3 separate regions of the Homo sapiens genome follow, and all the other regions are reported to be linked to region 1. The links are microRNA targets in miRTarBase. Many come from high-throughput screens and were not tested one by one. Region 1 holds a microRNA gene; each other region holds the end of a gene's coding sequence.
What was found. The annotated mature microRNA hsa-miR-1-3p reads UGGAAUGUAAAGAAGUAUGUAU and lies in region 1 at 2,495-2,516, opposite strand. An mRNA with a match to its seed (bases 2 to 7 or 8) in the 3' UTR can be bound and repressed. Matches are read on the target gene's strand: a 7mer-m8 pairs with bases 2 to 8, a 7mer-A1 pairs with bases 2 to 7 and ends in A, and an 8mer does both.

Region 2: miRTarBase lists RPP40 as a target of hsa-miR-1-3p. The part of its 3' UTR that is shown has no 7-base or 8-base seed match.
Region 3: miRTarBase lists XPNPEP3 as a target of hsa-miR-1-3p. Seed matches in the 3' UTR shown: 7mer-A1 at 1,319-1,325 and 7mer-A1 at 1,520-1,526.

Annotation. Positions count from the first base shown.
Region 1 is chr20:62,548,772-62,556,866 of GRCh38, reverse strand. MIR1-1 (microRNA 1-1) reads right to left here and starts at 2,561; the gene lies at 2,491-2,561. CRMA (cardiomyocyte maturation associated lncRNA) reads left to right here and starts at 5,306. Exons shown (of 7, transcript NR_033263.1): 1 at 5,306-5,441. MIR1-1HG (MIR1-1 host gene) reads right to left here and starts at 6,414. Exons shown (of 4, transcript NR_171007.1): 1 at 5,829-6,414; 2 at 3,202-3,402. RefSeq lists enhancers at 1-147, 5,452-6,327.
Region 2 is chr6:4,988,310-4,996,404 of GRCh38, reverse strand. It overlaps RPP40 (ribonuclease P/MRP subunit p40), which reads left to right. Exons shown (of 8, transcript NM_006638.4): 6 at 1-183; 7 at 320-454; 8 at 1,129-1,688. The coding sequence ends at 1,327. Among named protein-coding and RNA genes, the nearest start is that of LYRM4-AS1, 11 kb to the left of the region's middle.
Region 3 is chr22:40,925,219-40,933,313 of GRCh38, forward strand. It overlaps XPNPEP3 (X-prolyl aminopeptidase 3), which reads left to right. Exons shown (of 10, transcript NM_022098.4): 10 at 1,051-7,597. The coding sequence ends at 1,217. Among named protein-coding and RNA genes, the nearest start is that of RBX1, 22 kb to the right of the region's middle.

The DNA of each region.
Region 1 (8,095 bases):
GGGCAGTTTCCAGAGTGTTCTGGGAAACCCAGAAGCCTACACCTGGTGCTACCTGCTCTAGGGAGTGAGAGACACCGGCACTGGCCACCTCCTCATGGCCACACAAACCCACCTGGGTTCCCGAGCTGGCAGGCGAGGGGGTGGGTGTCCCATGTCCAGCCCCCTCAGCCCAGTCCAGGCTCATTTCCCTCTGAGAGTCCCGGCCCCCATGGTAGCGTGCCTAAGCCGTCTCAGGAGAGTCCCTGCGGGCAAGACATAGCCAGTGAGGGTCTGTGCCCCCGCCCTGCCTGCTCTCCCCTCCTTCAAACGGACAGGCACAAAGACCCCCACAGGGGAAAGTCCCAGCGTGTCCATGCCCCACGCCAGTTTGGGGTTCCCGTCCTGGCTGCTGCCCGGGAGCCAAGCTTTAGAGATTCACGCATGGGAGACTCCAGCCCCGGGTCCCAGTGTCTCCAGGAAAGCAGCAGGATCCCCAGGGAGCACCATCAGGCCACACGTGCAGGGGAGAGGGGCTCGGGCTGCCATGGGCGGTGTCCGTGCAATGCTCATTTTTAATTCAGCAGATCAGAGACTGGAGGTGATTTACCGCCAAGCAGGCCGCAGCTCTCTCCCTGTGAACTCTCCAGTTTTACTGCTCAGTCAAACCTAATTCCAAAACACTAATGCTTTTATTTAAACACCACATCCTGCAATAAAGCTTTAATGTACAACAGCCGCATCTAGGGGAAAAGAACGGTGTGTCTGTGGCCACCGGCAGCCTCGGTGGCCACACGCCCGGCTACTTCCCTCCCTGTGGCCGGAGCTGGGAGCAGGCAGGGAAGAGATGACGTCAGCGGATGCTGGGCACTGACCCTCCGGGTCCAGAGGCCGAGAGGAGGCTGTGCCCGAGGTCAACACCCGCCCCCTTGCTGCTACGCCAGATGGGGCTGAGGCTGGGAGAACGAAGTTTCCAGAAGGAAGACCTGAAGGCCAGGAGCCCTGACTGCCAGGCCCTCCCCTCCAGTCACCTCGAGGCTCCCTGAGGGGTGGGAGCCACCTGAAAGCTCAGAACGGCCCCCAATCCCTTTATCCAGCGCTCCCTATGCTGGCCCCAGCTGCTCAGGTGACCTGGCTGCCCCCAGACCCAAGGCCTCCAGCCGCTGCAGGAGGGGGCTGCCTGCCTGTCCCTTCCCGCCTCATTCCTGCCGAAGGCCAGGGTGCGGGAGGTAGGGCACAGGGGCACCGCTGTGGCTGGAGCAGTGCCAAGGCAGAGAGGACACACACCCCAGAAATTAATCCTGAGGCCTGTGGCAGGGTGGGGGTGCCCAGGCAGGGACCTGGCCTCATCCCAGGTGGCAAACGCCTCCAATCTGAGACTCAGAAACGAGCCGGGCAAACGCCCCTCACACAGCAGCCCAGCCGCTGCCTAAGACCCCAGAACCCGCCGCCCATCCTCTCCTTGAAGGACCAGCACTGGGGAAAAGGGTTTCACGGACGGATCCGGACCTGCCCTCATCCCCTGGGCCCCAGGACATCCTCCCAGTCCTTTCTCGGGTCAGGACTGGGATGGCGGCAGAGCAGATGGCTCTCAGGCCCCCGACAGGTGGGGCAAGGGGCCCTGGGCCACACGCTGCTTTCTGCCAAAGCCTCACCTGCATTCACAGCAAAACATGCCTCAGGTTGGATTCGGCGGAACAGAGAGAAAGCTGAACCGGGGCTTTGGTGGGGGTACAGGTTGGGGCGGCATGAACCAGACATTTGGCAAAATCGAACGGCTCCCAGGCCCCTGGGGTGGGCTGTGGGTTCAGGGCTGCACAGACTCAGCTCCTCTGACCCTGTCCCAGGTGCCCTCGGCAGAGGAGTGGGGCCTAAGGGCAGTGGTGGCCCTGACCCTGCCCGCGTCCCCAGCATCTCGTGTGGGCTGCGCCTTCCTTGGAGGCTACATGCCTCCGAGTTCCTCTGCCTTGCCCTACAGCCGGGAGGGCTGGATGCAGGTGCAGGAGGTGCCTTCCCTCCGCAGACTCTACCATGTGCTGCCCAGCCTCTCCCTCCTTTCTGCATCCAGCCACCTGCCCTTTTCCAAACTCGCTCTTGTCTTGTGCCTCTGAGCAGTTTCTGCCCTGGCCACACGTGGCCCTTTCTGCCGGCTGATGGCCTCTTCCAGGATGGCCATCAGTGGAGCCCCCAGAGCCGCCGCCACCACTCCGTGCTTTCCAGCCACGGCCCCGACCCCCCAGCCCTCACCAGCCCCGCGCTGGACCCCGCGCCTGCCGGAGGCCGCCTCCCCTCTGCCGCAGTCAGCAAGCTGAATATTTAATGTCTGGTGAGCACTTCCACCTGCTGACACAGGCAAAGTGACAGAACAATGCTGGCGGGGACACGACCGTCCACCAACGCCCAGGCAGCCTGCCGCCCCAGCCTCACCCCCACCACAGCCGCCTGGCTGGCTGTCGGCCGCGGCGGCCCCCGTGGTGTGGAGTGCCCCTCAGTGCGGCGAGAGAGGTCCCGGCCTGAGATACATACTTCTTTACATTCCATAGCTTAGCAGGTCCATATGGGCATATAAAGAAGTATGTTTCCCAAGCAGGCAGTCTGCATGCAGTTCCAAGACCCCGGGACGCCGCCCCGGTAGAAGCTGACCCCACTGCGATGTAGAGAAGGCAGCTCAGAGGCAGTGTAACTTCTTCCCTGGAGTCTACTGCCGGAGCCCTCTCTGTGTGAGCAGGACAGCCTTCCTGCCACTGCTGCCTGGTGTCCAGCCACCCCCAGGGGCCCAGGACTCCCTGCCCCCTTCTGACCTCGGCGCCCCTCCATCCCTGAATCCATCTCTCTCTGTCTGTCTCACACACTCACACGATCCAGAAAGGCAGAAGTGGACAGTGAGCCCCAGAAAGTCTCGAGCGCCTGTCCCTGGCCCCAGCAGTAGCTCGGTTTTGCGTCCATGGAAGAGACAGGCTGCCCCTCCACCCTCACCCCAGAGCAGGGAGGCATCATCCATGTCCCAAACTTTCAAAGCCAACACTTTCCTGTCCCCCTGGGTCACCTCATCCCAGCCAAGCCCAGAGAGGGCTGGGTGGAGAGAGGAACCTTGGGGGGCGCCCTGCCCAGCACCCCACTCGCAGGACCAGCCTCCTCCTTCTCCGGGAGCTGGACAACTCCTTGCTCCTGAGGCCAGACGAGGAACTGCAGACCAGAGACCCGAGAGGTGTCCTGGGGGCTTACCTGGGCATCTGCTGGTTTCCTGGGCAGGTCCCTGGTGAAGGCTGCCTCCCGGGACCCCGTATCCATGAGGAAGGGCTCAGCACCTCTCTCCGAAGATGCAGGCGAGAAAGACGATGCTTGGAGGAGTCCAGGTTCCCAGAGGGTGGTCAGGATCTCCTGAGAGGCCGTCCACTAGGGGGGCAACTCCCTAGGTGCCTCAGCCTGGCCACAGCAGACACCCAGTGGGCGAGGGAGCGTCGCTCCCCCGGTTCTCTCCCTCCTTCTCTCGCTCTTCTTCACCCTCTCCCCCGTCCCCGCCTCGCAGCGTCACCACCCTGAACCGCCGCGCAGTGCGGCCCACCTGAAGCGGCAGCTGCGCAGAGCCAGCAGCTTACATGGGCACCGGGGGTCAGCAGCCACCGTCACCTGCCCAGCGCCACTGCCGTGGCACCCCCGGGAGGCTGGTCCCACACCTGGCTCTTTGTGGCCAGCCGCCCAGCCTCCACCAGCCCCTGATCAATACCAATTTACAGTCAAATGCAGGGGGCCGCCTTCCTGTTAATGAATTTCCCGGTGCTCACCAGCTCCTAATGAGCCTGTTAAAGAGGGTTTAAGTAAACTTAGCGAGTGGCAAACTAAGCACTTTGGAATACTTAATTGTATCGATATGTTTTTCATTGCGTTTAAAAATGTCTCTGAGTGGGAAGCAGAGGCTGCCTCCTTCCCTGCCAACTTCTATGACCAGCCGTGAAGCCAGACTCTGAAAAATGTGGAGAAAGAGCCAGAAGGAGACCAATGGGACCTCAAGGTTAGGCCCTCACCAGCAGGAAGGGAAGCCGCCCCGAACCTGCTGGGAGCGGGGAGAGGAGGAGGAGGAGGAGGAGGAGGCCTGCAGGGTTTCGAGGCCTCGCAGTGGCCCAGGGCGAGCCTGGCACGTGCGGTGGTGAGAGGTGGAAAGAAGGCTTTGCAGGTGCCTGGGGGGGACGGGGGCCAGGGAGGCGCCAGTTGGGGGTGCAGGCCGGGCACAGACACAGGAGGCTTGCTAAGCGGTGGGGTCCAGCTGGGCCCTGGCCCCTGTCCTGCCACTGACCCTGGCGTGGGGTGGGACAGCAGCCCCGGGACATGAAAGGACCTCCCGTTGTCCTCATCAGGAAGAGAGGTCCAACATGACTCTGTTGCTCCTCCAGGCAGCCCGTCCATGCGAGGGGACAGCCCGGAGCGAGTTGGTTCTCTCTTACCACCCAGGGCAGGGCAATGTCTCCGCAGAGCCTGCAGTGTGCAGAGGCCACTGAGCATGCTGTGGCTGTGTGGCAGTGGGTCTGCAGCTGGGCATGGCTGGGTTGGAGTTTCACGTGGGGGTGGGTGGGGGCGGGGGGTGGGGGTTGTGCTTAAGGCTCTGGAGGCATCCCCTCTACAAAGGAAGGAGCAAATGGCAGACAGAAGCAGAAGCTGATGTCCCATTTCCACGTAGCTGCTGTGATTTATCATTTTCACGTAGCCAAGGATACAAAAAGGGCACCCGACACCGCAGCCTGAGCTTCAACTTCGGGGGCACCTGGGTTCCGCCGCTCATCTGTGCCCTCCCAAGACCTCCGCAATAACCGTCCCCGGAGTCCAGGGAAAAGGCCTCCTCAACGTCCCCAGCTCCCTGGCACATGAGCTCTCAGAGCCTGGGACACTCCCGCAGCCTGGCTCAAGCCCCCACGACCTGTGAGGCATTCATCTGGACGGGGTCTGGGGGTCAAGGGGAAAGCTGGGAGTCCCAAAGGGCAGGAGAGTCACCCCAGACCCAGCCAGAGTCCACAGGACTTCTGCCCACTCACAAATGAATTGTAGTCACTTTTCAAAAAGTTTCCCGTCTGCATAGAAAAAGAGCACCCAGCCGCCTCCAAGCAGACCCCACCGTGAGCCGAGCTGGCTCCTGTGCCCGGGGCCTCCTCCGGGGCTCTTCAGCGGTGAATACCGCCCGGCCCCCGGCATCAGCGCCGCGGGAGGCCACGCGGGAAGTCAAGCTCCCCAGCAGGGACCTGCACAGACGCCGACCACCAGGGCTGCTCTCCCCGAAGCCCCCCTAGTCTCCGCCCACATGTGCCCCCCGCCCCCCACCTCGCCGCCCTGCCCCTGTAAACGCCTCCTGACCCTGACGTGGCTGGGAGAGCTGCAGAAGTGCCGAGTCCCGGCCGGGGGCAGCCTCGCCGCCGCTCAGCTCGGGAATCCCTGCCCCCCACCAGCACCTCAGTGGGGGATACTGCAAGTTCAAGGTAAGTTTAGCCCCACGCCCGGCTGCCGGGGCTTTGTTGCGGAGCGGCAGGTGAATCGCGCCCCCAGCCCAGCCCCGAAGCCCCCATGCCATCCACTGCCCGCGTGGGGGGCCGCTGCTTTCTTGCAAAATGCCCGCAAGTCAAAGTTCCTGCCTCCCAGCTGGACGCGCCCTCCAGGCCCTGCCGGCTGCTGGCTCTGCAGTTTTCCAAATGTGGATGATGCCGCGAGCCAAGAGAAAACTCCACGGCACCCCCGCCGGAGCCGCACGGCGCCGGCACCCGCAGCACCCACCTCGCTGGCAGGCACACCCCCCACCGCGGTGCCCGGCAAGTTTGCAGGGGCCGTCCCGGCGGCCCAGCGGTGGTGATGGGCTGAGCAGGACTCACCGCGGAGCCCAGGGCACCCCTGGGGCCGGGCTGGTGACAGCGGCAGCGGCGGCGGGCGCAGGGTCGCGGCTCCCTAGGAGATGCTGCAGCGGCGGCAGCACCAGCCACCTCCTCCGGGAGCCAATCGCGAATGCAGGGGTGGGGGCCGAAGCTCGATGCGTCCGCACTTGGTGGGGGCAGAGAGAGAAAGAAGACACCAGGCACCCCCTCTCCACACCCCTGCCCTTCCCCCAGCCCTCCTGCAGCAGCGCAGACTTAGCAGGAGGGAGATCTTGAGAGAGAGAGAGAGAGAGAGAGAGAGAGAGAGAGAGAGAGAAGGCGCTGGTGCAGAGTTAGGGAGAGGCGGCCGAGCTGCACACCTTGAGCCCCGGCCTCCTCCGAAGGGAACCCCTGCACCCCAGCGGGGTCAGCACAAGGTAGAGAAGGTAGAGGTCAGGGTGGAACAAAAGGGAAGGTCCCGCGGGTGTGCACGCTCTCGCAGGCACACAGCCGGCTCGCGGAGACACAGGGGCGGGGGAGGGGAGGGGAGGGGAGGGGAGGGCCTGACCTGAGAGGCCAGAGCGGGCGTGGGGGCCCCCCTCGGGTCAGGAGCCGGCCTCACCTTTGCAGTTCTTATATACCCGGCCAAGCATCCCAAACACGCGGCCCTGGCCAAGTGGCCCCCTCGGGCTGCGCTCCCTGACCATATTTAGTCAAGCAGGGGAAAAAATAGCCTGTCAGCTGGGCCGCGGCTGGCCCGGCCACCGGGAACAGGGTGGGAGCACCCACGCCATTGACGGCGGGTCCCGGGCTCAGGCTGCTGTCCTGCCCCTCCCGGCCCCTCCCTGACAGGCCTCCCACCGGCTGTCCCTGCCCGAGATCCCCCCGCTATTTTTAGCCCAGCCAGTACAGAGGCGCCTCCTCAGTAGCCGGGCAGCAGCCTCCATGCCATGCCAGCCGGCTCCTAGGGTGCCCTGGGGAGACCCGGGCATCTCCCAGGCTGCAGGGCCGGGGGTGGGGGGGGCGGGCAGAATGGTACGGCCTCCTTCGCTGCTCTGAGCCTCCAGTGGGCTGAGCCCACCCAGGCCACCAGGAGTGGGTGGCCCCCTCCACAGTCCCATCGGCTCTGCCCTTTTGCCTAGAATTGGGGCCAGGATCAGGTGGTGACAGAGCCACCTGGGTTTCCGGAGACTCTCAAGCCAACCCCAAGTCATGACAAATGCCAGTCGCCTTGGACAGAGGCAAGGTCAACCTGCTTGCCGCCCCCAGCCAGGCCCTGCCACCAAGGGTGTGTGATGGGGAGACCCCAATCCCGGGTGCTGGACGGGCTCAGGAGCTCCCCCTTCCGGGATTTCACGCCCGAATTATGTAACAGACGAGGGCCTGGGACGGGGCCTGACGGGGATCTGTCCTTGCAGGGCCTGGACGCAGAGACCAGAGGCCTGAACTGGCAGACTGTCCTCACAGGCTGTGTGACGCTGGCTGGTCGTCCCATCTCTCTGGGGCCCCACAGGACTGGGGACCAGGTCGTGGAATGACAGTGGACCACAGTGGTCCGGGGACCCCGCTCGTTGGTGGCAGGCACAGGCCCGTGTGATGGGGACAATGAGCTTTGGTATTTGTGAGTCCTGTCCAGAGCATAGGTCCTCCTGTTCAGAAGCCACCTCATAAATGTCCCCAGTGCCTCCCGGACTTAGGAAGGCATCCCCTTGTGGTTCTGGCCAGTTAGGGACACAGGGCCGGGGAGTCTATGCCGCTCAGAACAGGCTCAGCTGCATCTAATCCCAGGGGAGCCCCTGAGGAGCCTGCACACCCCCCAGGCTGGCCCACAGGAGCTGAGGCAGGGCTCTCCTCCAGGTTCACCTCCTGGGCTCACGGCCCCTTCCCCACATCCCAAGGCCGGCTCTGCAGAGTCATGGGGAGAAGCCGGAGCCCCAGCCACACTCGCCACACACGCCGACACCCACTCTGGTGTCCTCCGGCCAGCGACAGCGAGGGACAGAGGGACGCCCCCTGCACCTGCCCAGTGCAGAGGCTTCTTGAGTGATGCCAGGCCCTTCTCCCAGCCCTGTACGCCCCGCTAAAGACCCCATGTCTCACCATAAAGGAGGCCAGGAGGTTTTAAGCTTCTACCTGGTCTGAGCACTTTTCTGGAAACTAAATAGCCACTCGGCTTCCCACTGGCAGCGGGAGAGCGTGGTGTGAGGTGTGGTGTCCAAACTCCCCCTGCAAGGCCCCTCCCCTGCAGCCCACTTCCTCCTGCCTGCCGTCTCCAGGCAGGGTTGAGG
Region 2 (8,095 bases), not on the chromosome of region 1:
AATGATGTCATATTTTTCCAAGTACCAAATTCAGGAGCATCAGCCAAAAGTAGCACTGAGCACGTTGAGAGATCTCCAGTGCCCAGTGCTGCAGAGCAGCGAGCTGGAGGGAACGCCAGAGGTGTCCTGCCGGGCTCTGGAGCTCTTCGACTGGCTCGGCGCCGTCTTCAGTAATGTCGACCTGTGGGTATCTGAACTCCCTGTGTCTTCCAGGGCTCTGGCCTGCTGCTTGTTTTTAATAGGAGTTTAATACTTTGGAAGTGATCATGTGATGGATATACATGTGTTATCTCTCTCTCTTTTATTTTTTTGGTGACAGAAATAATGAGCCTAATAATTTCATATCAACCTATTGCTGTCCTGAGCCAAGCACAGTGGTGGCAAAAGCTTATTTGTGTACAATCACTGGCTTCATACTTCCAGAGAAGATCTGTCTCCTATTGGAACATCTCTGGTGAGAACTCTTTACCTTTTATATCGCTCATCAGTGCTCTATAGAACAGTATGTCGAATAGTATAGATTTTTTCATTTTGGGAGGTGGTATATAAATAAAATGTACATTGAAAGGAACTCAAATCGCCTATTGCAAAGACCGTACATTGAGTATAATCCTATTTAGTAAGCATATCTTCTCAGTCTTCCCTTTTGAAATGTCAGATTTAAGTCTTGAAGGTTTTCCTTTTTAAGCCCAACATCCTTTTTCACATTTATTGGTTTAGTACTTTGACTTTCTTCGATAGGAAGGCTGGATATGAAAAATCTGGTGAATTATCCTGCAACGTTTCAGTTAACTGAGACTCTGAGAACAGTACTCTTAATAGGAGGGAAAGGATCCTTAAACGCCTGTGGGGTTTTTTGTTTTGGGTTCTTTTTGTCTTAAAGACCTCCCAGAATGAGGGTGGGAACAGCTGAGGTTTGTTTCATGTGTTGTATATTAGTTAATCCTTATGGAGTTCACAGTGTGACATCAGGAACTTATCACACACCTCTTGATTTTCAAAAATTAAAGCTAAGATCTAAGCTTTATTAGAATATCAGAAATACTACTTATCCTGAATAAATTTTTTAAAATGCAGACATTCCTAACTCTCTTTTAAAACTCTGTTTAACAACTACCTTTTTTTCAGTCACTACTTTGATGAACCGAAGTTAGCTCCATGGGTTACACTGTCCGTTCAAGGCTTTGCAGACAGCCCTGTTTCTTGGGAAAAAAATGAACATGGTTTTCGAAAAGGAGGAGAACATTTATATAACTTTGTGATTTTTAATAATCAGGACTATTGGCTTCAGATGGCTGTTGGGGCAAATGATCACTGTCCACCATAAAAAATAAAAATTAAAAATCGTGTTTACTTACATTTACGCTTGCTTTCAGATTTCTTAATGGTAAAAGGTCTGTGTGTCCACTCAGGCTTGTGTGATGGTGACATTTCTCAGATCAGCATTTGCTGGCATCCTGCCCTGCACCTGAGACCCATCTGTGATGGCAGCAAGGCCTGCTGTCCAGTGAATAGCTCATAGTTGATTTCTCTCTGTCAACATAAGCACAGGGTTGTGGGTTACTATGTGGTACACTGGGCCAGGATGTCCAGGGACCGGGGATATTGGTCCCCATCTCACTCCATTGGTTGAGATATATTTTGTTCATTACAACTTTTTCAGATAATAAAAAGAAATCTCATCCTTACCAGGGCCAGTCCCTGTTGTAAGTGCTGTTTATATATTACCATGTTAGAATCTCACACCAACCCTTTGAGGAAACTGAGGCACAGTGTGTAAATACACTACCGAAGTTATAGTGGCAGTGGACCTGAGACTTGATCTCAGGCCAGCCTAGTTCCTAAGTGTGTTCTCACGCTAATGCCTCTGGATCAGAGAGGGATCAATGGATACTGTAAATCGTTACAGAACAGGTTGAAAGAATTTTATTTCCAGCAGTAAGGCTGATAAGGACCAGTTGAAAACAACTAAAACTTTAGAATACATATGAAGAACCATTTTTTTTTTATTATACTTTAAGTTTTAGGGTACATGTGCACAACGTGCAGGTTAGTTACATATGTATACATGTGCCATGTTGGTGTGCTGCATCCATTAACTCATCATTTAACATTAGGTATATCTCCTAATGCTCTCCCTCCCCCCTCCCCCCACCCCACAACAGGCCCCGGTGTGTGATGTTCCCCTTCCTGTGTCCATGTGTTCTCATTGTTCAATTCCCACCTATGAGTGAAAACATGCGGTGTTTGGTTTTTTGTCTGAAGAACCATTTTTTTAATGTAAAAAACAAGAGCTGCAAAATAAGAGTTCTTAAAGGGAAAAAAAAATTTTTTTTTTTGTAAATGGAAGCAGAAACCCAAAGAAGTAAGTGGAGTACTGACGCCACTTTTCCGCCTTAGTGCATCTGCCAAATGCCAAATTGAAGTTTTCTTCTCATAGCCTGGGGTGGGAAGGGGCTGCAGAACAGCACACAAAGCTCAGGGCCTGCCCAAGGGAGGAAAACTAACAGGAGACCTCATAAAGTGAGACTCCAAAAGGATAGATGCAATGTAGGGGTAAACTAGGAATAAATCCATCTGCTTCACCCATCCCCCCAACCCCTGTGAACAGCAAGGAAGATTTCTGTCCTGGGGGAAAACATCTTACTTGAGAGCCTATATATAACCACAGGATTTATATATAACAGCAGTTTTTAGGGTGGCTTGTTTGCACCACCTGGATAGTCTTAAAAAATCTCAAGAGGGAAATTTCAAGTGATAACAGGATTTTACTGCCTTACAGGTAACTGGCAGAAGCAAAACAGATTGTCTTTGGAGGAACTCGGAGAGTTTCAAGGAATGTAAGTTCATAGAAAAAAATCACAAGTGTAAAATAGACAAGAACCAGCAGAAACAAGGGGCAGAAGCAGGCCGTTAAGTCTCAGAAAGACTTAAGATGTTAAAGTTAGCAAGCACATCCATAAAGTATGCTTTATGCTTACAGAAATAAGGAGGGTTAAATGGCATGAGTATAAGAACAACGAAGCAGATTGTAAAAAGTGCCAAACAAATCTAGGAATGAAAAATATAATTGAAATTGCAAATTCCACTGGTTGGTTTAACAGCAGACTAGACGCCACTGAAAATAGAATAATGGATATGAAGAAATTAAGATCTTTTCAAATTTGCAAAAGCTGAAAGACTGTCACCCACAGGTCTGCACTGCAAGAAAAGTTAAAGGATGTCCTTTGGGCAGAAGGAAAATGCCTGCCTTCTGAAGGAAATAAGCACTGGAAATAGTAACAACATGGGTAAATGTAGCATTTATTATTTAAACCTCTTTAAAAGACAGTTATTTAAATAAAAGTCATAGTGTAGGATTTATAATATATGTAAGAGTAAAATGGATGACCACAATAGCTTGAAGATTAGGAGAGGAGAATCATGCTATTGTAAAGTTCTCATACACAAGGTGACGTGCTACCATTTGAAGATAGAGTGTGATAAGTTACAGATATGTGCTGTAAACCCTAAAGCAGCTGCTAAAATGACATACCAAAAAATCATACCTATTAAACTATCAAAAGATAAAATGGAATTATTTTAAAAACTTGATTCATCAAAAAGAAGACAGAAAAAGAGGTAAAAGGGAATAAAGAACAGTTAGGATGAATCGAAGACAAGTAGCAAGATGAGAGACTCAACCTAAGCATATCAATAATCACATTAAATGTGAATAGTGTGAACACCACCAATTAAAAGGCATAGATTTTCAGACTGGATTGAAAAAAACATGACCTAATTATATTCTGCCTACAAGAAATGTACTTTAAATAGAAAGATACAAATACTTAAAGGATGGAAAAAAGATATGCTAACACTAGTTACATGAAAATTGAAGTGGCTATATTAATCAAAATAGAGCAAAAAGTAATTCCCAGCATATTAGTCAATTCTCGCACTGCCATAAAGAAATATCTGAGACTGGGTAGCTTATAAAGAAAAGAGGTTTAATTGGCTCACATTTCTTCTTCTTCTTTTTTTTTTTTTTTTTTTTGAGACAGAGCCTCCCTCTGTTGCCCAGGATGGACTGCAGTGGCGCAATCTCGGCTCACTGCAACCTCCACCTCCTGGGTTCAAATGATTCTCCTGCCTCAGCCTCTTGAGTAGCTGGGATTACAGGCATGCGCCACCATGCCTGGCTAGTTTTTTTTTGTTTCGTTTTTTTGTTTTTGTTTGTTTTTCTTTTTTTAGTAGAAACAGGGTTTCACCTTATTGGCCAGGCTGGTCTCGAACTCCTGACCTCGTGATCTCTCCACCTCAGCCTCCCAAAGTGCTGGGATTACAGGCATGGGCCACCACACCTGGCCTAATTGGCTCACGTTTCTGCAGGCTGTGCAGGAAGCACAGTGGGCATCTGCCTGGCTTCTGGGGAGGCCTCAGGAAAACTCAATCATGGCGGAAGGTGAAAGAGAAGCATGGCCAGAGCAGGAGGGAGGGGTGTGGGAGGTACCACACACTTTTAAACAACCAGATCTTGTGAGAATTCTATCACTAGAAGAGCACTAAATGGGGGAATCCACCCCCATGAGCCAATCACCTCCCACCAGGCCCCAACTCCAACACTGGGGATTACAATTTGACATGAGATTTGGGCAGGGACACAGACCCAAACCGTATCACCCAGGATTAAAGAAAGTTATTTCATACTGACAACACACACCTCATAACAAAGCTTCAAAACACATAAAGCAAGAACAACTAGAACTTCAAGGAGACATAGATCAACCCACTATTATCAGACGTTAATACCCCACCCTCAATAATTGACAGAACAAGTAGGCAGAAAATCAATAAGAATAATAAAGTAGACTTCAGCAATTTTATCAATCAACTTGACCCGATTGACATTTACAGGACATTGCATCTTACAATAGCAGAAAATTTTTCTTGAGAAAATGGAGAAACAACTCAATTTTGTTTCTTGAGAAATAACTTGAGAAAAATTTTTAGCTGTTCAAACAAAAATCATAGTACGGGATTTATAATATATGTAAAAGTAAAGTGGGTTAAGAGTTTTTCGCAAGTACACATGGAACATTTATAGAGATGGACTACATTATAGACCATTTAAAAAGTCTCAAATTCAAAACATTTGTCACATAAAGTATGTTGTCTGGCCACAACGGAATTAAATTAGAAATCAATAGCAGAAACTAGAAAAGAGAAAAACTCAAAGTAAGCAGAAGAAAAGGAATAATAAAGGTCAAAGTGGGACTTAATGAAATTTTTAAAATAGAGAAAAATGAATGAATCAAAATTTGGGGAGTTTGGGGGGGAAATTTTTTTAAATTGAGAAATCTCCAGCCAGGTACATATATCAGGGAAAAAAGAAACAAGACACAAGTTACCAATACTAGGAATGAGAGAGGTGGCATCACTGAAGAGCCTACAGATAGAAAAGGATAGTAAGGAAATATTAGGAACACCTTTATAGCAATAAATTCAACATAGATGAAATTGACAAATCCTTTGAAAGGCACAAATTACCAAAGCTCACCCAAGAAGAAGTAGATGATCTGAATAGCCCTATATCTGTTAAAGAAGTTGAAATTACAGTTTAAAAACATGTAACGAAAATCTAGGGCTAGGCGTGGTGGCTCGCACCTGTATTCCCAGCATGTTGGGAAGTTGAGGTGGGAGGATCACTTGAAGCCAGGAGTTCAAGGACAGACTGGACAACATAGCGAGATTCCAAAAAAAAAAAAAAAAAAATTAGCCAGGCATGGTAGCACATGCCTGTAGTCCTAGCTACTTGAGAGGCTGAGGCAGGATGATTGCTTGAGCCTAGGAATTGAAGGCTGCGGTGAGCAATGATCACACCACTGCACTCCAGCCTGGCTGACAAATCAAGGCCCTGACTCAAAGAAAGGGAGAGAAGGAGAGAGAGAGGAAGAAATATTTTCCACCTCATTATCTGAGGCCAGAATTATCCTAGTGCCAAAATTATCCTAGGACCCTGGCCAAACAAACATGCTACCAGGAAAGAAAACTACAGATCAACATTTCTCATGAACATAGGGTAAAATTCTAAGCCAGTTTATCAAATTGAGTCCTACAAGATAAGAAACAGGTAATAAAACATGATCAAGAGGGAATATCCAAGGAGTGTAGGGTTGACTTAACATTTGAAAAATCAATCAATATAATTCATTGTATAAACAAGCTAAAAAAGAATAATCATATAATCAATCAATACAGAAAGGCATTTGACAAAATCCAGCATTCATTACTGATAATCAAGAAGGTTAGGAATAAACAACACTTCTTCAATCTGATCAAGGGCATCTACAAAAACCCTACAGCTAACATCACACTTAATTGTGAAAGACAATATTCCCCACCTTCCCAACGTCAGGAACAAATCAGGGATGCCTGCTTTTACCGCCTCTGTTCAACATTGTACTGAAGGCTTTAGACTGTGCAATCAGAGAACAAACAGAAATAATGGACATCCAGGTTGGAAAGAAAGAAAGAAAAATGTATTCACAGATGACATGATTATTTATGCAAAATTCAGCGGACTCTACAAATGAGCTACTAGAACAAATAAGTGAGTTTGTCAAGGTTGCAGGATACAGAGTAGTGTACAAAAATCAGTTGTATATGGTAGCAATGAAAAATTGATAATTGAAACAAAAAATCAACATTTGCAATCACATAAACAATACTACCTTTGCAATAGCATAAATACCTGGGATAAGTCTGACCAAAAAAATGAGAAAAATACTGTACACTGAAAACTACAAAATACTGATATGATAAAGAGACCTAAATAGATGATATACCTTGTTCATGGGTCAGAAGACTCAATATTGTGAAGATGTCATGTCATATTCCCAAAATATAGATTCAATATAGATTTAATACAATCACAATCAAAATCCCAGCAGCCTATGTGTGTGTGTGTGTGTGTGTAAAATGACAAACTGATTCTAAAATGTTTGTAGAACTTCAAAGGACCTAGAGTAGCCAAACAACTTCACAAAAGAAGAACCAAGTTAGACGACTAATATTACTAGATTTTTAAGGAGTTATTCTAAAGCAACAGTAATCAAGACAGTGTGGTATTGACATGAAGGATATACCAATAGATCAATGATATAGGATTTGTGTCCAGAATGTAAAGTACTTTCAAAACTCAGCAATAAGAAAACAAACAAACCAAATGGAAAATGAAGGAAAGACATCAACAGACATTTTACCAAAGAGTCCACTTAAACTGCAAATAAATGAGTGAAAAGATGTTCTAACATCATTAACCATTAGGAAAAAGGCAACTTAAAATCATGATATCACTAACTCCTATTAGAATGGTTACAAAGGCAAATTAAAATCATGATATCACTAACTCCTATTAGAATGGTAAAAGATAGTGATAACATCAAATTCTGACAACTATGCTGAAAAACTTTATCTCCCGTATATTACTGGCAGTAATGTATAATTTCACAGCCATTCAGAAAAATACCTCCCAGTTTACTTATAAAAGAAAACATGAAATTACCATATGATCCAGTAATTTCACTCTTGGGCATTTATCCTGGGAAATGAACTTATGTTCACACAAAAACCCATACTCAAATGTTCATAGCAGCTTTATGTGTAATGAGCAAGACCTAGGAAAAAAACAAATGTCCTTCAGTGCGTGAATGGTTAAGCAAATTGTGATCCATGAAATACTGCTTAACAATAAAAAGGAGCAAGTTATTAACACACCCAATAACTTGGAAGGATCTCAAGGGAATTATATGGAGTGAAAAAAAACCCAGACCAAAAAGTTACTATTGTATGATTCCATTTATATAACATCCTTGAAATGAAAAAATTGTAGAAATGGAGACCAGATTAGTGGTTGCCTGAGATTAGGGATGTTGGGGGTGGGGAGGGGTCAGTGTGGCTGTAACAGGGCAATAAAAAGGATCATCATGGTGATGGAACTCTTGTATATCTTGACTGTGGTTGTCAGTACATGGACCTACACATGAAATAAAACTGCATAGAACACACTCCACCGCCGCCTCTGACACACACACTACAACTAAGGAAATGTGAA
Region 3 (8,095 bases), not on the chromosome of region 1:
GCTTCAGAGAAAGCTAACAATCGGATACGTTACCTAACTTGAATGGTCCTGGGTGTTGGGCAGGATTCTGAAGAGAAGCAGTGACCACAATGGTGTGTGAAGATTGATGTTGTCAGAGTTGATGGTTAAATACTGATGCTGGTTTTGTTTTGAAAACAGATCTAAATTTTAGATTTCAAGTATTTTAATCTCTGTATAAATTATGGCTGTGAAATGTCTTTTATGCCACCCTTTGAACCTAGTCATACATTGCTATCTGTGGCCATAGATATATCATTTAGTTCAATCTGTTTGGTACATGGGCGCTTCCTTAGACTGCGCTACATTTTCCTTTGCTGATCTTTCTTTTTCAATCGCAGAGCAGTATCTGTGAGGATAGTGGAGGAAGTTTACAACTTGTTTAATATAAAAAGCCCTGGTATGTGTCTAACTTCATGATTAGAAAGGGTACCTGGGGTTCCTACATTTTTCCAAATGTACATTAAAGTCTTTCAGTTTCTCTTGTATTTTATATTACACACATCAGATATATTTAAATCTTATAATGACTGTCTCTGCAGCTTCCAGTTGTCAAGGCTAATAATCTCTAAATGTTTCTTTGAATACAGTTTAAATATATTTTGTCTTTATTTTTGCAAGGTGCTCTTTTTCCAAGGGACTCTTAGGCAGGGGAAGAATGCACTTACATAATCTGCTTGTCCCCCACATATATTGACGTACTTTTAAATTAAGTAACTTTATTGGCCTGCTTGAGCCACTAGAATATGACAGAATCATGATCAGCATTGCCGTAGTTGTATTTAGCTTGTAGTCCAATATAAAGATAACCACAATAATAATTTTAGTAATGATACCAACATGTGTTGACCATTATATGCCAGCCACTTTGACATGTATTATCTCATTTAATCCTCACAGCTTTACTAGGTAGGTACCATAAAGATCCAGTATTACAGAGGAAGGAATTTTAACCCAGAGGTTAACTTACTTGCCCCAAACCACCCAGTTACTATCATTCCTGAACAGCATGTTCTTCTTTCTACTTCACAGGCATTTATATTCCAGAGGATGACAAAGATGCCCCAGAGAAGTTTCGGGGTCTTGGTGTACGAATTGAGGATGATGTAGTGGTGACTCAGGACTCACCTCTCATCCTTTCTGCAGACTGTCCCAAAGAGATGAATGACATTGAACAGATATGCAGCCAGGCTTCTTGACCTTCACTGCGGCCCACATGCACCTCAGGTTCAAAATGGGTGTCTTCTGGCAGCCCTGCACGTGTGCTTTCTGAGTGTCTCTGTGTGTGCATTAATATATGCATTCCATTTGGGAGCATAGCAGCTGTGTGAATGTATGTAATTGTGTGTGGGGGGTTTTTTGTTTTAAGTAGTTAGAAGTCTGGGAAAATGAATTTTTGAATAGTATGTTACTGCAGCTTTGGTAACATTAATTCTATAGAATTAATGATCAGAGCAAGTTTAATTTTTAAACATAAAGGTCTTGGTTACACATGTCCATGCATTCCAGTTAACACATTTAAACATATAGAAAATTCACTTCTTCTTTCAAGTCCTTCCCTTTCTATACTTTTGCTGAGATCAACCCAATATCATAAGAAGTTTGTGTGATGCCTGTATTTTTAGCTAATTACCAAGGTCTCTGCCTATGCAAAAATTCATCTTTCGGTGATTGTGGGCGGCCAATACATACCTTCTGTAACTCCTCCCTACCTATTCTAGATCCTGCATATCTACTGGAGCCATATGAGCCCTCAGGGGCACTGGTGTCCTGCAGTCTTACTAGTCAGCCACAGTCCAGGTTCCAGCAACACTAGCTACCTACCAAACAAAACACTTCTGAGCTTTTCTTGCCATTTGGTTGCCTGGGACCTGGAAAGTGTTTAGATTCTTGATAAAGATGGAAATGGAAGAGAAAGAAAATTATATATGTATATACTAAAGATCCAGACATCAGGGCTGGGCACAGCGGTTCCGCCTGTAATCCCAGCACTTTGGGAGGTCCAGGCAGGTGGATCTCTTGAGACCAGGAGGTCAAGACCAGCCTGGCCAACGTGGTGAAACACTGTCTCTACTAAAAATACAAAAATGAGCTGGGTGTGATGATACATGCCTGTAATCCTGGCTACTTGGGAGGCTGAGGCATGAGAATTGCTTGAACCTGGGAGGTGGAGGTTGCAGTGAGCTGAGCTCATGCGACTGCACTCCAGCCTGGGTGACTGAGCAAGACTCTGCCTCAAAAAAACAAATAAATAAATAAAATCCTGACATCCTGCCATCTTTTCTCTTCAATTTAAAGTTGATTTCTTAATGATGACTTCAAAAATTAATAAAAAGAAAAGAAAAAAATGATTTCTGGCCGGGCGTGGTGGCTCAAGCCTGTAATCCCAGCACTTTGGGAGGCCGAGGTGGGCGGATCACGAGGTCAGGAGATTGAGACCTCCTGGCTAACACGGTGAAACCCCGTCTTTACTAAAAATACAAAAAAAATTAGCTGGGCGTGGTGGCGGATGCCTGTAGTCCCAGCTACTCAGGAGGCTGAGGCAGGAGAATGGCGTGAACCCAGAAGGCAGAGCTTGCAGTGAGCCAAGATCGCGCCACTGCACTCCAGCCTGGGTGACAGAGCGAGACTCCGTCTCAAAAAAAAAAAAAAAAAAGAAAAAAAAAAGAAAGATTTCTTTCGCAGATATCCCTGCTCCCTCTATAGATTCTTAATGCACTGACCCTCACAGGTTACCCTTTTAGCTGTTGTGCTGCGCAGGAGCAGATCCTCTACTTACGTACCCTGTCAGAGTCACAGTAGTAGCGCCCAGTTTTCAGAGAAGTACCCCTGTTATCATTCTGTGATTTCCTCTAGTGCTAATAGAAACAAAATATGGAATCTACCAAGTACCCGTAAATATCCTATGATTCTTATCTTTCTTTGATACTAGCACTGGGAGTGCAGTGGTAAAGAGTCATACTTCTTTTTTTTTTTTTTTTTTGGAGACAGAGTCTCGCTCTGTCGCCTGGGCTGGATGGAGTGCAGTGGCGTAATCTCAGCTCACTACAACCTCCACCACCTGGGTTCAGGCAATTCTCCTGCCTCAGCCTCCCAAGTAACTGGGACTACAGGTGCACGCTGCCATGCCCAGCTAATTTTTTGTATTTTAGTAGAGACAGGGTTTCACCCTGTTGCCCAGGCCGGTCTCAAACTCCTGAGCTCCGGCAATCCGCCCACCTCAGCCTCCCAAAGTGCTAGGATTACAGGCATGAGCCACTGCGCCCGGTGTAAGAGTCATATTTTTTTAAACACAAACATTGGATACAATTATACAGCAACTCAGTTTGCAAGATGAACAGGGCTAGATTACCACAGATAGCTTATTTAGGAGCGTCTGTGATAGAGGGAAGCTTTAAGAACCAGTGTGTTCACCTCCTTTAAACCTGGATATGAGGTCAAGATGTATAAAACATGCCAATTGTTAGAACACAAATTTGAGGGTTTCTTAAAAAAACAATTTGTATTAGGGAAGCACAAGCTAGGGGATTAACAATCTCTGTAATGCTGGAAGTTTGCCTATCTTATCAGGGAAACCCAGGGTACAGAGTGAAAAGCAGACAGGCAGTGACTTCCTCAAGAGACAGATAATGTGAAAACAAAAGTGATACAAATCATATCCTGACAGTGCTAGCCTAGGAATGCCTGGCTTTGCGCACCTTATCTAAGCAGCTCTCAGAATGGAGGCTGCACAGCTGGAGTCTCCATCCCCCATACCCACCTTCCCACCTCCCTCCAATTTCTCAATCCAGAGCTTTTTAAAAAAAGGGGAGGGAAATAACTCCACAGCTCTGGCTGCTCACTTCCCAGGCTCTGTGCCCCCAACAGCCCTTTCCTTGGATTGTGTTTCCTTTGTTCATTTGTAATCCAGGAATAAGGAATTTCCTTTTCTTCTTGTATCATTTTCTTTTCTTTTCTTTTTTTTTTTTTTTTTGAGACGGAGTCTCACACTGTCACCGGGGCTGGTGTGCAATAGCGAGACCTCAGCTCCCTGCAACCTCCATCTCCCAGGTTCAAGCGATTCTCCTGCCTCAGCCTCCCGAATAGCTAGGAATACAGGCGCCTGCCACCACACCCGGCTATTTTTTTGTATTTTAAATAGAGACGAGGTTTCACTGTGTTGGCCAGGCTGGTCTCGAACTCCTGACCTCATGATCTGCCCGCCTCGGCCTCCCTAAGTGCTGCGATTACAGACGTGAGCCACCGCACCTCCTGTATCATTTTCTATGGTCTAAACTTTTCTAGCTAAAAGCCTAGGTAGCTTGTATGTATAGCAGCATACTTGGACATGAAACACACTTCTGGTTAGATTCCAGTCAAGTTCTATAGGTGTTATTGGTAGGCAGAAAGGCTGTTGTAGAATTCTTCTGGTGATTTTCAGTCCCTGACCCAGGTATATTGTCCTTTGAGTCCCAGATTAACTAACTATAGCAGCTAAGCATTTGAATCAGACTTCTCATAGCAATGTTATGGGCTGTCTGATATATTCAGGATTTGTTGAGCAGATAAGCTGTGTGTGATCTTACTCATTCTCAGCCATGCCGCAGACATACCCATTTCCCTTTAGTAATTTTTTAATACAGAGAATGCTATTAACTGTTACTGGATATCAAATAATTTTATTTTTCTAATAGTATTTTCCAAATATTTCTTAAAATTCTTAAAATTTAGGTTAAAGTTTGCTGGTCTCTTACATTTAATAAAGCTGGGACTTGAAGACTTACCATAGTTTTCAACTGCCTTTGCAAGTTCATAAACTTCTAAGGGTAAAAAGTGAATAAGATAAATTCAGAGTTTTAAGGTAAAGGCTTTATATTAGCTTTTTTTTTTTTTAAAGGTTTTTTGTGGGGTTTTTTTGTTTTTTTTTTTTTTGAGATGGAGTCTCGCTCTGTCACCCAGGCTGGAGTGCAGTGGCACGATCTTGGCTCACTGCAACCTCCATCTCCCGGGTTCAGGCAATTCTTCTGCCTCAGCCTCCTGAGTAGCTGGGACTACAGGCGCGTGCCACCATGCCCGGCTAGTTTATTGTATTTTTAGTAGAGATGGGGTTTTACTGTGTTAGCCAGGATGGTCTCAATCTCCTGACCTCATAATCTGCCCACCTCAGCCTCCCAAAGTGCTGGGATTACAGGCGTGAGCCACTGCACCCAGCCTTTTTAAAGTTTTTAATTGACATATAATTGTACGTATTTACAGGGTAAATAATGATGTTTTGATACATATATAATGATCAGATCAGAACAATTAGCATATCCATCACATTGAACATTTATCATTTATTTGTGTTGAGCCTTTAGTTCTTTTTTTTTTTTGAGATAGAGTCTCACTCTGTCACCCAGGCTGGAGTACAGTGGTGTGATCTTGGCTCACTGCAACCTCCACCCACCGGCTTCAACCAATTCTCCTGCCTCAGCCTCCCTAGTAACTGGGATTACAGGCACCTGCCACCACACCCAATTTTTGTATTTTTAGTAGAGACGGGGTTTCACCATCTTGGCCAGGCCAGGCTGGTCTTGATCTCCTGACCTTGTGATCCACCCACCTCAGCTTCCCAAACTGCTGGGATTACAGGCATGAGCCACGGCCCCCAGCCAGAGACAGTCTTGCTTTGTCGCCAGGCTGGAGTGTAGTGGCGCCATCTTGGCTCACTGCAACCTCCAACTCCCTGGTTCAAGCAGTTCTCCTGCCTCAGCCTCCCAAGTAGCTGGGATTACAGGCACGCACCACCATGCCCAGCTAATTTTTGTATTTTTAGTAGAGACAGGGTTTCACCATGTTGGCCAGGATGGTCTTGATCTCCTGACCTCGTGATCTGCCCACTTTGGCCTCCCAAAGTGCTGGGATTACAGGTGTGAGCCACCGTGCCCAGCCGAGCCTTTAGTTCTAAGTATAATAAATAATATATATACCAGGCATTCCTATTAAAAATCTTAACTTAAAAAAAATTACTCAAATGTTACTACTGGAATTTTTCTCCCTGAATTGAAGATACATGGTTAGATCATTAACAATACCACCTAAATGAAGGAAACATATCTGGATATCCAGTGTCACATACTTTTATGTATTTATTTCAGGAATTACTATTTTGTCACCATAATTAGGAAACAGACTGTGTTCTTTATTTGAAACACAACAGTATAAATACTATAGTAAAGTTGGGTGCAGTGGATCACAGCTATAATCCCAGCACTTTGGGAGACCAAGGAGGGATGGTCACTTGAGCCCAGGAGTTTGAGACCAGCCTAGGCAACATAGAGAGACCTTGTCTCAACAAAAAAATTTAAAGTTAGCCAGGTGTGGTGGTTTGCACCTATAGTCCCAGCTACTCAGGAGGCTGAGGTGGGAGGATCGCTTGAGCTTAGGAGGTCAAGGCTGCAGTGAGCCATGATTGTGCCACTTCACCCTGGGCAACAGAGAAAGACCCTGTCTCAATAAAAAAGAAGAGAAAAACTGGAGTGAGAACTCTCCTCCTCTCATAATCATAGTATCCACGTTAGGAAAATGCTTCTGAGAGTAACTTAAAGTACTGTGTGTGCATCTTCCTTCAAAACCTTGCTTTTTTCTCCGTTTTTGTAAGGTGAGAAAGGGAAAAACCTTCACCGTAGAAATACTGTCTTGAGATTAAGATACAAATAAAACATGTTAAACCTCCATCTAAAGACATTGCAACTTATTAAAACAGAAAAATGTACCTTTGTTATGTCTTTCCAAATATCCACACCCACACCCTGTTCAGCTTTGTTAATAATACAGAGATCAGAAATGTGAAGCACAAATGCTGCTTCTCCCCCTCCTGTTCCCATGTCAGAGATGGAGAAGAAAGCACAGTGAGCTGTTCACCAGTCCAGCGGTGACCTCGGAGTCCTTTGTAACAGTGTTTCCAATAACTTCTGCCAATAAAACAGAATTTGAGTTAGAACCTATCTGCTGTCCCTCAACTAGTGTCTGATAGCTGAGAATGTAATTCGTTTGTGTGTCTATTAGAAAATTAGGCAGGCACCACAGACAGTAGCAACATAAAGGAACCTGCTTAGAAGAGGTTTTTATGGTGTGATTGTGTTTTTTTTTTTTTAATTTTTGTTTCCTGAAGTAGAATCCATAGCTCAAAACAAGTTTTAAGCCTGAGAAAATATAATTTGAGGTGTTTTTTATGCTCCTAATGAAAAGATGAATGAATGCATCATTAAACCTTAACAGTAGAGCAGAATTTCACTGTTACAAACCACATGGGTTCTCCTGGTTGTGCTGCTGTTCTCTACCTGTGTGTCACTGAGTTTGAGCATCATTATTGTTTGAATCAGAGGACCCACTGGAATCAAGGCTTCTTGGAATTGCGCAAGAATCTGAGAAAACTTCAATCTTTACCAGCATTTCTTAATGCTTTCCATGACTTTTGTGCAATTATATAAGTTCAGTTTAGACAAAATGCTGTTACTTTTTAAGGCATTACTAATAACTGAAAATAGTTACGTCATTGCCCATCAAGGGAAAAGCACTTGTAACTGTCATTTAAAAAAAATAAAACTATAAAACAATATAGAGGGGTATGGTGTGTGTGTGTTACTTTAGAATCTAGAGTTTACGGTCTATTTAGTATAAACAGTATAAACGTGAGACCATCTGGTTTTACAAAATAATTTACAAAGTATTCATTAGCTGCTGTCACAAAATCATGATAGCAAACTTGAAATGATTTTATCAGTCTTATAGAGGAAGAATCTGGTGGATTTGATCCAGCCTATTAAAAGGTTGGCACAAAACTGACTGAAAGGTCTCCAGAAAGTCCCCATAACACTCAAGACTGTAAACTGTAGCCATGCACATTTTATGAAGGATGAATTTTGTGGGGAAATAGGATCAAGTTGCAAAATTATGAATATTTGACCTTTGTCAACCATATAATGAATCGTAAGTGTAGCCATCTCTCTCTCCCTGTTAGGAACCATCTTTAAAATCTGAGACTGTCTATGAGGAGTACCTTTAACATTTCTCACGTTCTGGCAGGCACAAAAAGATACTTTGTATGGCACAATGG